Regions from separate parts of the Homo sapiens genome. Here region 2 is linked to region 1. A link means that fine-mapping ties the variant in region 1 to the expression of a gene that starts in the linked region. Tissue or cell type: whole blood. Region 1 holds a variant in brackets; the other region holds the start of a gene. All regions are shown on one strand. Distances are between the middles of the regions.

What was found. PIP is the estimated chance that this variant, and not a neighbour inherited with it, causes the effect.
Region 2: it holds the start of FAM20C, and the variant in region 1 is fine-mapped to the expression of FAM20C in whole blood (TOPMed, PIP 0.98).

What each region holds. Positions count from the first base shown.
Region 1 is chr7:106,572-113,878 of GRCh38, reverse strand. LOC105375114 (a long non-coding RNA gene) reads left to right here. Exons shown (of 3, transcript XR_926959.3): 3 at 1-1,223. Among named protein-coding and RNA genes, the nearest start is that of LINC03015, 39 kb to the left of the region's middle. RefSeq lists an enhancer at 4,489-5,205. The variant G/A (reference allele first, on the strand shown) is at 4,027.
Region 2 is chr7:188,487-195,793 of GRCh38, reverse strand. FAM20C (FAM20C golgi associated secretory pathway kinase) reads right to left here and starts at 3,223. Exons shown (of 10, transcript NM_020223.4): 1 at 1,990-3,223; 2 at 62-240. The coding sequence starts at 2,594. LOC124901808 (a long non-coding RNA gene) reads left to right here and starts at 5,676. Exons shown (of 2, transcript XR_007060632.1): 1 at 5,676-7,307. RefSeq lists enhancers at 1-446, 6,871-7,307.

The DNA of each region.
Region 1 (7,307 bases):
CATGTGGAATAGAGTGATAATAACTACAGTTCATCTGTGTCTAGGAATGCCCTCATCTGTGCCATTTGTGAATTAGTTTCAATTTGTTGATATTCCTCATTACATGATGTGTTTTCCTGCCTCTTTGCATACTTGGTGATTTTTTACTGTATGCTAGACATCATGTACTTTTCCTTGTTAGATCCTGGATAGTTTTGCACTCCTAAAATTATTTTAAAACTTTTCAGGGATGAAGTTACTTTACTTGGAAACAATTTGATATATTTGAGGCTTGATTTTAAGCTTTTTTGGGTGGGGCCTAAATTAGTCTAGGACTGATTATGCTCTACTACTGAGGTGATACCATGCTGAAAAAGCTTAATAAGGAGAAAGATCAATCAATAAATATTCACGTATATTCACAAAATATAATGAGGAGAAAAATCAATCAGTAAATATTCACGTAACCCTAAAAAAAGTTAAGAAATGAGAAACAAAGGGGGGAACTGGAGGGTATGTATAGAGAGCGAGGCATAAAATTACAGACCCAGACATAACCATGTCAATACTTATTTAAATATGAGTGGACCAAAGATTTCAGGTAAAACGCAGAGGTTGTCAGAATAGATATGAAAACAAGACCCACACACATGCTGTCTTCCAAAATTGCACTTGAAGAACAGAGACACAGGTAGCTTTAAATGACATTAAAGTTAAAGCATAAACACTGGAAAGGGAGAAGAAGAACTGCCTCTTTATGCAGATATCATGAATCATGTATGAGGAAGTATCTTAAGAAACTTACAAACAACTAGCATAGGCACTGAGAAAGCGTGGTCTACTCATCAACCACAAACAGGAATGAAGCCCTAACATGCCACAATATGGATGAACCTTGAAACTGAAAACATGATGAGTGAAAGAAGACGGACACAAAGGGCCGCATGTTATATGATTCCAGTTATACGAAATGGGCAGATCTAAAGAGGCAGAACGCAGGTTAGTGGTGACAGGAGCTGGGGGAAGGGAGGAACAGAGAGTGACACCTCGATTGATGTGGTGTCTCCTTTCTTGGTGATGCGAATGTCCTGGGGCCGACAACGTGGTGAACGCACTGGATGCCACTGAATTGTGCACTTCAAAATTGTGAAAATAGTGAATTTTATAATATGTGAATTTTACCACCATAAAAACCAAACTATTAGTACAAATAAAATTAGTTTAGCCAAGTTGCAGCATTTAACTTTCATAGAAAAATCGATTGTATGTCTTTGCTCATCAATATACTACCGTGCCACTTATGGTCCTTTTGAAGAAATGAGACAGCTGATGCTAAGATTTACATGGAAAGACAAAAGGGTTAAAATATCCAGAAACAACTTTGAAAAATAAGAACAAGGTTGTGGGGCCCACGCTACTTGATTTCAAAAATTACTATACAGGTATGGTAATCACGACAGTGTGGTTTTGGCATCAGGAAAGACACAGAGGCCAACTGAGCCGAAGGGGAAGTCAGAAAGACCCACATTTATATAGTCCCTTGATTGCTGGTAAAGGTAAAAATTTAATTCTTTCAGAACTAGCTGTTTCAATAAATGGTGCCAGGATAAGTTGATATCTACATGGAAAAACAAAATAACCTTCAAGCCTTACCTCCCACCACATGCAAAATTATCTTGAGATGGATCATGGACTGAAAATTATTAGAACTTTTAAAGTTCTAGAAGAAAACATACAGAAGAATTTTTATGACTTGGGCTAGAATAAACATTTTTTAGAAACAAGATGTGAAAGCACAGATGATAAAAAATGATAAAACAAATTCAGCAAAATTGAAAAGGTTGCTCAAAATTAAACAGAGTTAAGGGAATGCAAAAGCAGACTACAAACTGGCAGAATAATTTTACAAAATCCACATCTGACAATGGGCTTGTACTCAGAATATATGAAGATATCTTATAAATCAATAATTTGAAAACTGCAGTTAAAAATTGAAAAGGACTTGGACAAATACATGACAAAAAAGATATATGACCCATAGGCACATGAAAAAATGATCAACGTCACTTGCCATCAGAGGAGTACACATTAAAAGCAGTCTAAAGTTAAAAAGATTGACAATACTAAGTGTTGACAAGGATATAGAACAATGGGAATTTACATACAATTTAAATTGGAATGCATGAAATTTGGTTGGAATTTTAAATGGAAATACTTTGGAAAATGGACTGACACTATCTAAGAGGTAAAACATTCACTTACCACATGACCCAGCAATTCCAATCCTAAATATTTACCCCAGGAAAATGAAAACATATGTCCACACAAAGACGTGGACACAAGTGCTCACACCAATGTTATTTGTAATACATCCAAACTGCAAACAGCCCAAATGCCCATCAACAGGCAAGTTGGTAACCTACGGTGCATGCATATTATGAGATACTACCCATTAATAAAAAATGAACAAAATATTAAGCCTACACGACATGGATAAGTCTTGAAATCATCAAGTTAAGTGGAAGAGATAGAGTACTGTTCCATGTCTATGAGCTTCCAGGAAAGGCAAAGTTACAGGGACAGGAATCAGATCACTGTCTGCCTGGGGCTGGGAGCTGGAGGAGGGAATCTAAAGGGGCAGGAGAACACTTTTTAGGAGAATGAAATGTTCCACATCTTGACTGTGGTAGATGTTACATGACTGTATACAACTGTCACATGAATGGGCTTTACTGTTTGTGAATGAAACCTAAACAAGCTAGCGAAAGAAACAGAAGGAGCATGGGCCGGCTGAAGCCGTGTCTGCAGGTGGGTGCTGGAGGCCCTGGAGCCGCGTGGCACAAGCCACAAACCTCAGGTGTCTCCCGTGGGTGGCTGGGGAAGATTAAGGCAACCCTCAAGAAGCCCACCAAGGCGCCACTGGGGGCTCCTGTCTTGGGGCTGTGTGGGGCCAGCCTGGGGAGGCGGGAGCCTCATAAGAGTCCCCTGAAAGCTACTTCATTTCCAAGCAGAGAAGGGGGTGGGGGTGGGGGGTGCAACACAGAAGGGTCTTGATGGAGAGGGTGTCTGCACAGCACAGTGATTACAGCCCAATCAGGGGTCAGACTTCCTTCGTGGACAGCCTGGTTCTCACCTGCATTCGCTGTGTGACCTTCAGAAAGTGACCTACCGTCTCTGTGCCTAGTCTGCTCTTTAGTAAAAGATGGCTAATGAAGTGGCTACCTTACTGGGCCCTTGAGAGAATGAGATGAGAGAATACAGGTACAGCACTGAGAGCAGCACTGGGATACAGTAGGTGTTCATAAATGGCACCTGCTATCATTATTAGTGATCTAGGAATAGGACCTTAGCTTAAACCCCACTGTGAGAAAAAGGGAAAAGCAAGGAGGAGAGGCTTGTCCAAGGCAGCAATCCCATCTTCCAGACACCAGGCCAAGAGTTCTGGAGCCCGAACACAGGCGTGGCAGAGAGCCTTTGCTGCCCTTCCCCTGCCCACGGGGCGGAGGGGAGATCTCGGGCCCCACAGCTCCTGAGCAGGGCTCGGGGGTCACCCTCAGTGCTGGCAGGGAGTGCGGAGTTGCTTTGACTCACTCAGGAGTAGGTTTGAGCCCTGGTTCCTTTCCTTATCACTCAGAGGCCGATGGCGCAGTAGCTGCCTGAGGAACACACAGCCTTTGCAAGTCTTTGGGAAACAGGAGAACTGTCTTCCTTTGTCCGAGAAGCACTCAAGCTGACGGACAGTGGTGCTGCTACTTGCTGCTATTTCTCTCCAAACTTTGGGACTGCGGCCACAGCGGCGGCCACAGCTGTTATTCCTTGTGTCTGCCAAGGGTCTGAGAGTGGCCTGGCGATTCAGCTGTTCCCTGCCCACAGCCCACCCTACGGGATGGGGCCAGTGATGTCGGATCCCTGGTGGTCCTGGTTCTGGCTATCGCTGGAGGGGACACAGACTCCACCTGCGTTGAGCGTGCCGCTCCCTGTGTTCTCCATCTCCATGTTCCCACCTCTTCCTGCTCTTTTCCCCGTGCTTTCAGCTACCTAAGGGTC[G/A]CCACTTACCGTCCCTGCAGAGTGCAGAGATTTCTCTTTGAAGAAAAGGTTCTGGAGCAATCAGAGGGGTGAGTGTGGATGCAGCCAGCCCCAGCCCTATGCTGCTCCTCAGACTAATGGTGCTGAAGGCTAAGAGAACGAATAAATGGTAGTGAGCGTTTTTCTCATTAGGGTTTTAAAATCCTCCAAGTAATAGATCATTTTGTAGCATCTTACATGTCCTGCTTATCCTAATAATGTGTTATTACTGAATCTCAATAATTTTAATGGGGAAATTCTTTATCTTAAAAAATGTGAAGTGGCTATCCATTTAAAAAGTGTTAACGAGGTAACTCCAAGGGTTTCAATGAACAAGGAGGCCCATAGCTGTAGTGACCCAGTGCCTTCGTGTTTTAGACACTAGCTGAGATCTGCACACTGGAGCCATGGCCGTGGAGGGAGCAGTGACCAGGACCTGCCTCCCGCAGTTGGGGGCCTTTGGTGCTCAGCCCAGGCTTCTGTGCTGGGATGCAGGGCCAGTCTGTTCACACAGACCAGGATAGGCCCTGGACGCGTGCACAGACAAACCCCCACAGGGGTTCATTTTATCTGGGGTGTGGCAGGGAATCATGAGCTGAACAGAGATGCTGGATGCCGAAAACAGCCTCTGTCCCTGCCTCTCTGCCAGCGCTTGCTGTTTGCCTGGAAACAATCCCTCTCCTTCCTTGGCTGCAGTTTTCTCACCCATGAAGACGTGTTCAATGCAGACGTACCGAGTTTCCTCTGGGTCTTCCTGGTTGCCTGGCGTCTCCAAGTGCTCATTTCTCTTCCTTGCTCTTGCCCACCCCACGGGCCCTTCCCCCGTGAGCGAGCTTCACAGACACACACAGACACTAGTGGTTTGGGGTCCTTAGTTGAGGCCATCTTAACTGGCTTCCCTCACCTCCCGAGTGGCAGGCTAGGAGGAAGCGGTGGTTTATTACAGGGACAGATCACACTGTGCCAGGGAAGGCCAGGAAAATATATTCCCATTTTACTTCCTCTAATAATCTCCTATTTTCATCAGTGGGTGAGTGAACATGGCTTCTTCTTCCCAATGATGGTGCAAATGTATAATTTCTCCCAATGAAATCTGATTTTAATGAGAGACTAAATCAGAGGAAAGAGTATTATTTAGATAGTATATGCACATGTCAGGTTAATTTAAAATCAGCTTTTAGGTCAATCTATCTTAATTATTCTATTAACCGTTTTTGACTAGCAATTCCAATAATTGTGTTTGCGTAATACTTGGCAGTGTAATTGCTTTTTGGATTCTCTTCATTGTTTTGTCAGAGTCTGTTCCTGGGCCTCTGTCCCTGGTGAGCTGTGCTTGGGTTGAGTGTGTGCTTGGGTTGTGTATGCACATTCGTGCAACTGCACATGTGCTTGGGTTGAGTGTGTGTGTACAAGTGTGTGTGTGTGCACATGCTTGGGTTGAGTGTGCAGATGGACGTGCATGTGCATGCATACCTGGGTTGTGTGTGTGTGCACATGTATGTATCTGCTTATGTGCTCTAGTTGAGCATGCATGGGTGTCTATGTGCACATGTGCTTGGATGGAGTGCATGTGTACATGCACATATGTGCAGAAGTGCTTGCATAGTGTGTGTGCATGGGTATCATGTGCATGTGTGCTTGGGTTGAGTGTGTGTGCACATGTGTACATGGGTGCATGTGCTCAGGTTGAGTATGTGCATGTGCACACGTGTTTGGGTTGACTGCATGGGCATGGGCATGCAATGCATATGTGTTTGCATCATGTGTGTGCACAGAAGTGCATGTGCTTGCATTGTGTGTGCATGGGTATGCATGTGTGCACGTGCTTGTGTTGAGCATGTGTGCATGTGCTCAGGTTGGGTGTGTCATGGGTGTAAGGTGCACACGTGTTTGGGTTGACTGTGGGCACAGATGCACACATGCATGCATGCTTGGGTTGAGTGTGTGTGCACAGGTGTGCATGTGCACATGTGCTTGGGTTGAGTGTGTGCCTGGGTGTCATGTGCACGTGTGCTTGAGTGTGTGCATGGGTGTCATATGCACATGTGCTGGGGGAGGTGCTTCCCTGATTATTAATGAATGTATTTTCATGGGGTTTATTGATATCAAGGACCCCTGTCTTTATTTTTTATTTTTAAAATAAACTTCATTTTAGAACATTGTTAGATATAAAGAAAAATTGTGATGATAGCACAGAGTTCCTGTATACTCCACACCCAGGTTCCCCTACTCTTACCCTGTCACATTATACTGTACCTTTGTCACAGTGAATTAGCCCATGTCGATACAGTAGTAGGAACTAAAGTCCATACTTTATTCACATTCCCTCAGTTTTCCCTTAATATCCATTTTCTACCTCAGAATCCAAAGTATGATGTTACAGTTGGCCCTCATGTCTCCTTAGGGCCCTCGCAGCTGTGACAGATTCTCAGACTTTCCTTATTTTTAGTGATCCTGACAGTTTTGAGGAGGACTGGTTGGGTATTTTGTGGAATGTCCCTCATTTGGGACTTGTCTGATCTTTTTCCTGTGATTAGTTTGGGGTCACGGGTTGTGGGGAGGATGGAAAGTGACCTTCCCACAGCATCACACCAACGTCCTTGCTGTCTGCGTGACTTGTCACCGGTGATGTCAACCTCGGCGATGTGGCTGAGGCAGAGGTTTCCAGTTTTCTCCACTGTAAAGTTGCTCTTTTTCCCTTTTCATACTGTATTATTTGGAAGGAAGACACTCTGCAACGCTTATACCTTTAATTGTTTATTGATGCATAACATTTTACATATTTATGGGGTGCATGAGATATTTGGATACGCGCATGCCATGTGTAATGATGGAATTGGGGTATTTAGGACGTTCATCACCTCGAACGTCTATCCTTTCTTCATGTTGGGAACATTTCAAATCTTTTCTTCTCGCTATTTCAAAATATACAGTATGTTGTTGTTAACTATAATCCCCTCACTGTGTTATCAACACTAGAACTCACCCCTCCTACCAAACCGTTTATTCGTACCCATTAACCACCTTCTCTTCATTCCCTCCACCCGCCCCCCACTATTTTTTAAACAGCTTTACTGGGTTATAATTCACATACCATGCAATTCACCCATTTAAAGTGTACAATGGTTTTCAGTATATTCACAGAGTTCTACAGCCATTACTACAGTCAATTTTAGAAAATTTTCACCACCTCAAAAAGAAACTCCACACCCTTTAGCTACTCTCAGCCACCAGCCCTGCCCCCACCCCCAGCCCTAAAGAAC
Region 2 (7,307 bases), 82 kb before region 1:
GCAGCCCTGATGCCACACAGCCGGCACACAGACGGCCCTGAGTGCACCCAAGGACACCTACCCACGCTGGTGATCCTCTGGGAGCTGAGGTCGTGCAGCAGGGCCTCGATGGCCGGGTTGTGTCTGGAGTACAGCTCGTACCGGTTGATACCAATGTGGAACTTGAGCCAGTTGGGATAGGAGTCCACGGCCGCCTCCCCGGGGGAGAGGAATTCTGCACCTTCAGCACCCGCATGCGGCCTGCAGGGAGCAGCGAGGACGAACATCAGCATGGAAAGAACAGGCCCGTGAGTCGGATGACGGGGAGAGGGCACCGACGCCAGTGTTTTTAACTTTGGGTTCAAGCAAGTGCAGATGTGTTGAAGGCGCCTCTGCTTAAAGAGGGCCCTGCAACGTCTGCGCTTTCTTCTGTGGCCGCTCGGCTGCCAACTAATAACACGGTGAAAGGCCTGTAATTCTTACTCACCCTCTGGAGACACCACAGACAGCTCTAACTACAGCAAAACTAATTCCAGGACGTCAGCGCTGCCCTGCCATCCCCGCCACGTCTGTCCCAGGGTCACCGAAATGGCCCAACCATGACCTCAGCTGAGGGTGCGAGGGGCTGTGGCCCTCCCCTGGAGTAGAGGGGAGAACCTACCATTGACCACAGGCTGCATGAAACTCACAGACACGCCCAGTCTGTCAGGAACCTTCCCCAGCTCTCTGCTTTTGTTCCAACAACCAGGGGCACAATGATGCAAGAGGCTAAATTTGATTTTAATGAGAGCAGCCTTGGGTGGGGAGAGAGGAAGGAGGCAGCACTCTCTCCAGCCCAGGCTCCCATGGAGGACCCGCCGCCCACGCAGCCTGTCCTCACATCTCTGGGGTCAAGGGACCGTTCTGGAGGAGGGACAGACCCTCCGTCTGCCTGCTGGGCTGGAGGGAAACGCGGAACTTGTCCTAGCTCGAATTCACCTAAAGCTGAGGTGCTTTCTGCCGAAGCTCTGTCCTGCGGTGGACACGGGGGCGGGGTGGGGGGCTAGGATACACTTCCTGGCCACTCGCTGCTCTGGGCGGCCGTCTCTCCCTGCCGAGAGCCACAGCCCAGGCCAATGCTCTGGTTCTCAAATTTCCAAGCATTTCCTTGAACCTGACCAGCAGGCAAGGCTCAGAGGCTTCCAAACAGCCAGTGTGTTTAGACAGAAGACACTGGGCCTGGACATTTCAGGGAAGAAGGGACTTTCAACCAGATCTTTTGGAAGGCTGGTCTCCCCCTCTGCTGCTGGGGTAACCTTCGGCAGGTAGTTACTTATTCTGGCCTTGTCGTGGTTAATGTTCCACTGCTTCGGTGTAGCATCTGCTTGTTTTGATCTGTGTGGCGGAGGGAGGGGCCGGGGGGTGGGGAAAGGGCTTAGCCAGGACAGTTTAAAGAGAGGTTCCTGCCGTGGCTTCTCGCCCTTTATCGAGCCATCATCTCTTTGCAGCCAGCACACCCACCGCCCTTGCTGGCTGGGCCGCCTTGTTGCACCTCACGGCTGCCAGCAAGCCCCTCTGATAATTCTGCTCCAGCCACTGGGTTTAAAAGACTCAATAGGCACATCCAGACCTTCTCCAAGGTGCCCACCCAGAGCACCCTCGCCAAGTGTCTGAAAGCCCAGCGGCAGCCTGGCTCCTTCCCTCACCAACTCATTCATTCATTGCCTGACCCCATTTCCCAAGCTGGTGACCACGGCTGGTCAGGACTCGCTTCTAAAGGGCGCGGGGTCTGGCTTCCTCACCAGCAGCCACAGGGCACAGCTCCCGGACCAGCCGGCAGCCCCTCCCAAGGAGGAGGTTATTCTGGAGACAAAGGCAGCGCCCTGAGGTAGGCGGCTGCCTCCTCCCGCACCACACTCCCTGCCCGGCCTCTTCCATGGGGGGCGGCCCTCTGGGGCCCCTGAACCTCTCTACACCATGCCTTGGGCTCACGGCTCCCTTGGGGGTGGGCACCTGCCAGCCCCCACTCACCAGTCCGGGTTCTCCGCCGCTTTGGGGCTGAGCCTGGTGTCGCTGTTCACATTGAACAGGACGTCCTCCTCCGTGAGCGGCGGAACCGCCACCCGGTAAAGCGGGTGCTCGAACAGCCTGGCCAGGAGGGAGGCGTCTCCGCCGGGGCCGGGGGGCGACTCGGACCGACGCGGGCCGGGGTCTCGCAGCAGCGGCCGGTGCGCGGGGTCGTGGGGTCTTAGGGCGCCGGGATCCCGCCCCCGCAAGGCGCGCTCGGCCGGCTCGGCCGCGGGCGGCAGTTTCTCCAGCGAGTGGGACGAGAGGTTGGAGGAGGGGTCGGAGCTGAAGTCCTGCAGGATGCGGAGCGTGTGCTTGTTGGGCCAGCCCGCGTCGCCGGCGGCGGAGGAGGCGGCCGGGGGCTCCCCGGGGCGGCCCCGAACCTGGGCCCAGCCGGGCGCGGCCACCTCGGCGGCGGGCTGCGCGCACGAACAGCCGGGCTCCCCCGAGGGCCGCGCGCCGCGTCGCTCCAGCCTGGGCAGCAGGTCCAGGGCGATGTGCAGCGCGCAGGCCACCAGGAACACCATCAGGATGAGCACGCGGAACCGGCGCACCAGCATCATCTTCATGGCCGCGCGGGCCGGCCCGGGCCTGGAGCGCGTTCTGCCCGCGCGCCCCTCTAGCTGCAGCTGGGCACGAGCGCGGCGCCGCCTCGCGGGTCAAGGTCCATCGGTGCCGGGCGGCTACCAGCTCCGGGGCTGTCCCCGGGCCCGGGCCGCGTGCAGGGCGCCCGCCGCCGGAGCGCTGGGTCCCCGCGCCATCTCGGGCCCGTCCCCGCTCGGCCTCTCCGGAGCGGCCGCGCCCTCAGCCGGGGAGCCCAGGGGTCCTGGTCCGCGGAGCCGGGCGCGCGGGGGGCGGCTGGGGCCGCAGCAGGGGGAGGCTCGGCGCTCGCAGCCGCCGGCGCGGGGCTCATCGGGCGTGTGGGTCCATCCCGGCCGGGGCGCGACGGGCCTGGGCGGTGGCGGCGGCCGCAGGCGTCCCGATCCTCAGCGCGCTCCTCTCCAGGCGCCGGGCGGGCGGGCGGGGAAGGGGCGGCTCCTCCGGGCCGGGCTCTGCTCTCACGCCGCGCCCGGGAGACCGGGGCTGGGGGGAAGGGGGGGGCGAAGGGCGGAAGGGGTGGGCGCGGGGAGCGGCCGGCGGGGTCCCGGGCAGGTGCAGCGGCCGCCCCGAGCGCAGCTCCCGCCTGGCCGAGCCTCTCGGCGCCCCGCGTCCCGGGCGGGCAGATATCGAGCGCCGCGGAGCCGCCCCCCGCGTCAGCGCCCACAGATTGGCGGAGCCGCCGCCCCACGAGTCACGGCTGGGCCCGGGCCGGCTGCGCTCCCGCTCTCCTTCCTCCTCCCCTCGGCCGCGCCCCGCGACGCCTCTGAGCTCCGGGCCCGCTAAGGAGAGGGCTCCTCCTGCCCGCGGTTTGCAGAGGGAAGCGGCGGAGACCGGGAGGGCGCGCTCGGTTCTGGCCAGGCCAGCAGCTGCGGCCGAGTGGGGGGCTCCGGCCTGGCCGCTTCCTGGGACCCCCTCCCGCCCGGGGCCGCCGCCGCCAGCTGCAGCCTCTCGGCTCCTCCCCAGAGGAGCGCGGGGCCGGGGCCCAGGCCAAGTCCCTCCCCGGAGCCGCGGGGCGTCTGCGCCGCCGGATGAGCTCCCCGCCGGGCGGCGACCCCGTGCCCCACGCCCGTCTCGGCAAGGAGGAGGCGGAGGCGGCCCCGCGAGAGAGGCCCAAGGAGCGACTGGGCCTGGACCCAGGGGACGCCAGGGCAGCGGAGCTCCCGGCACCGGTCCCGTCCCCCCCCCCCCGCCCACCCGCGGGACGCGCCCGCCTTAACCCTCCAGGCGCCGGGCCCGCTGGGGGCGCTGAGAGGGGCTGGTGTGCCGGGGGCGCCTTCCTGCTTGGGGCCGACGGGGGTGTGTGAGTGCAGGCGTGTGCGTGTGTGTGCGCATGTGTGTGTGTGGATGTGCGTGTGCGTGTGTATGCCTGTGTGTGTTTGTGTGTGCGTCTGTGTGCATGTGTGTGTGCACATGCATGTGTGTTCACGTGAGTGCATCTCATCTGTCACCCACAACCAGGGGAGCGGTGCTTGTACAACCAGCTGGTGGCTTCTGCAACCAGCAGCTTCTGGCCGTGCAGCTCCCTGTAGGGAATATGAGTTAATCTGGATGTCAGCCTAAGATGTAGTCAGGGAGGTAAGTGTGTGGGAGGAGGCCACATCCCCTGTGCCTCAAGCCGGCTGCTTCCACAGTGCCCAGACTGCCTGGGCCAGCAGCCTCGCCAGCAAGCCCAGGCGGGTGGGCCGGGAGCAGGGCCTGGGCCCCCCCTCTTACTTTCACCGGCTGGCTGTGTTACCAGGGCCCTCTCCGCCCTCTCTGAGCCTCAGTTTCCTCTGATGTGAATTAAGGGCGTTGAGCCCATTGTTCCTGAGGAATCACTCATCTCTGAGCCTGGCCCATTGCCTGGCATTCCGTGGGCACCCACTAGATACTTATAAGGGGAGAAGTTGTTCCAGTCCGGCTGGCCAGTGGAATCCATGCGTCTTGGGCCATTTGAAGTGAGTGAAGGGCTGGGTGCGGCCCACCTGGAGCTGGACTGGAGGCTGTGTTGGGTGGGGCGGTGTGACCTGGAGGTGGGCTGCCCCCTCAGGAGACAGCTTCACCCCTGTGAGTGGACCTCATCCTTCCTTCCTTCCACTCACATGGACAGCACATCTGTGTGTAGACAGGGTCACTGAGAGAGGCCAAGGAGGGTGAGGAGGAAGATCCCGGGTGTGGGGGGAGTCCTGGGGGAGCAGACAGCAGGGACAGAAGCCTGTGGCAGGAAGGAAGGTCTTGGCCTGTGTTCTCCCAGCAAGGGTCCCCTTGGACTTGGAGTTCTATAGGCTCCTGGCCCCCCCATCTCTCCCGTGGTCTACAGGACCTCGACGCAGAGCTGTGGCTAGTGTCTTGGGGCAGACATGGGGCTGAGCAGACCCCATGGAACACTATTATCCGGTGTGGGGGGCCTCATGGAGGTTCCCTGGGCACTTACTTTCACTTGCCTCCTGCCCCCAACTCCTCTCCCCTCCCATCCTCACCCCCAGAGTGGTTTTTGGGAGCCCGGCAGCTATCTGGACCCGTGTGCACCCCTGGACGCCTCCCTCCCTCGCAGAGGGTCCTGGTTCATCTCGTCTGTTGCCTCTTAGAACAGTGGCCTCTACCTCGCCAGGTCCTTCAGAAGCGCCCCCCTCCCTGCCCCGCCACTGTTTTCCCAACAGCACCCGCCGTGGTCTGAGGACACTTTCTTCTGCTCCTGTTTATTGTTTATCTCCCCCAAGCACAAGCAGTCGAGTTAAGACAGGAGCCTCGTTCAAAGTTCCGCCCGGGGCCAGGCACAGCGCAGGCTCTCAGAGGAGGGCCCAGGAGTCCACAGGCTGCGGCGGCGCGAGACAAAAGTCGGAAGACAGGACCCCGCTGAGGAGTGAGGAGACAGCGGCCAACCCTCCGCCAGACCCTTCCGCCTGGTGCCTTTACTGGGCTCTGAGGAGGAATTTGGTGGTTCAGTCGGCCCATCCGTGGACACCATAAAAACAAAGAGAAAACAGACACACACAGATGCACACATAGATACACACAGATACACACAGACACGGATATATAGACACACACAGATACACACACGTGGACACAGACACACACATAGACACAGATATATAGACACACACAGATACACACACGTGGACACAAACACACACAGACATACCCATAGTTACGGATATATGCATGGATACACAATACACAGACACACAGATGATACATGCATAGACAGATATATGGACACACACACACGGACACACAGATACACACATAGACACATAGACAGACACAGATACAGACACAGGCACATGTAGACACACATGGACATACAATACTCAGATGAACACAGAGATAATATACACATAGACACAGATCTATAGATACACAAAGACATACACACAGATATACATAGATGCACACATAGACACAGATACACATGTCATCACACATGGACACACACAGACACACACCAATACACACATAGACATACGAAGACACAGGTACACAGACACGTATACACACAGACACGCATATATACATACAGACGCAGATATACACACAGACACAGACATACACACACACACAGACACAGATATACACAGATACATGGACAGATACACATTCACATACACACATAGATACACAGAAACACACAGACACACAGACACATAGAGACACACACACAGCCACACAGGCCCTGAGCCTCCCTGGGCCCTCCCTTGTGCAGAGGCGGAGGGGCTGGCTGTCGGGGAGGGCACCTGGAGAGGACACACAGCCCCATCAGAGACCAGGGAGTGGCTCTGGGAGCTCTTTTCGTCCAAAGGGGCTGGAGCTCCAGTTAGCCAAGGTGAGCGCCAGGTGGTGACAGGAATGACATAGGAAAATAAGACGGCCCGGGCAGGGAGGGCTGCCTGCTCTGGGTGTGAGGGGATTGCTGTCTTAGACCACGTGGCCCAGGAAGGCCTCCAGGCATGGCTTTGCACAGAAGCTGGTACCTGAGGGCTCAGCCCCGTGGAGGCCTGCGGGGTGGAAATGCCAAGGCTGGGGCAGGGGCATGTCTGACCCTCTGCGGGGAGAGAAGGCCTGTGAGGTGGGCATTGTGTGAGGGGCCAAGTGGCCTCTGTAAGGTCTGCAGGTGGGGCCAGGCTGTGGGCTGCGTCCTGAGTGAGGGGGCCGTGGGAAGGCTGGGGACAGAGGGACGACGCTGGGTCTTGGGTCGGGAGAGGCTCACCTAGGGGCCGGGTGGATGGGTCTAAGGAGGGCTAAGGGCGGGGCAGGGAGAGCAGCTGTGTGGTGAGGACGAAGGGAGGTCGGCCAGAGCCCCCGGGGAAGGGCTGTTGTCATGTGGATGAGCTGGGAATTAGGAAAGCTTGTGGATTGCGAGGCCTCAGTATGCAAAGCCCTGGGACAGACGGGCCCCCCAGGAATGAGGGGGGCAGACGGGCTCCCCAGGAATGAGGGGGGCAGACGGGCTCCCCAGGAATGAGGGGGACAGATGGGATCCCCAGGAATGAGGGGGGACAGATGGGTCCCCCAGGAATGGGGGGGGCAGACAGGCTCCCCAGGAATGAGGGGGGCAGACGGGCTCCCCAGGAATGAGGGGGGCAGACGGGCTTCCCAGGAATGAGGGGGACAGATGGGCTCCCCAGGATAAGGGGGGACAGAAGACCCCAGGCCTGAGGACCAGGCCTGCCCCCTGGCACCACCAGACACCAGGAGGGCAC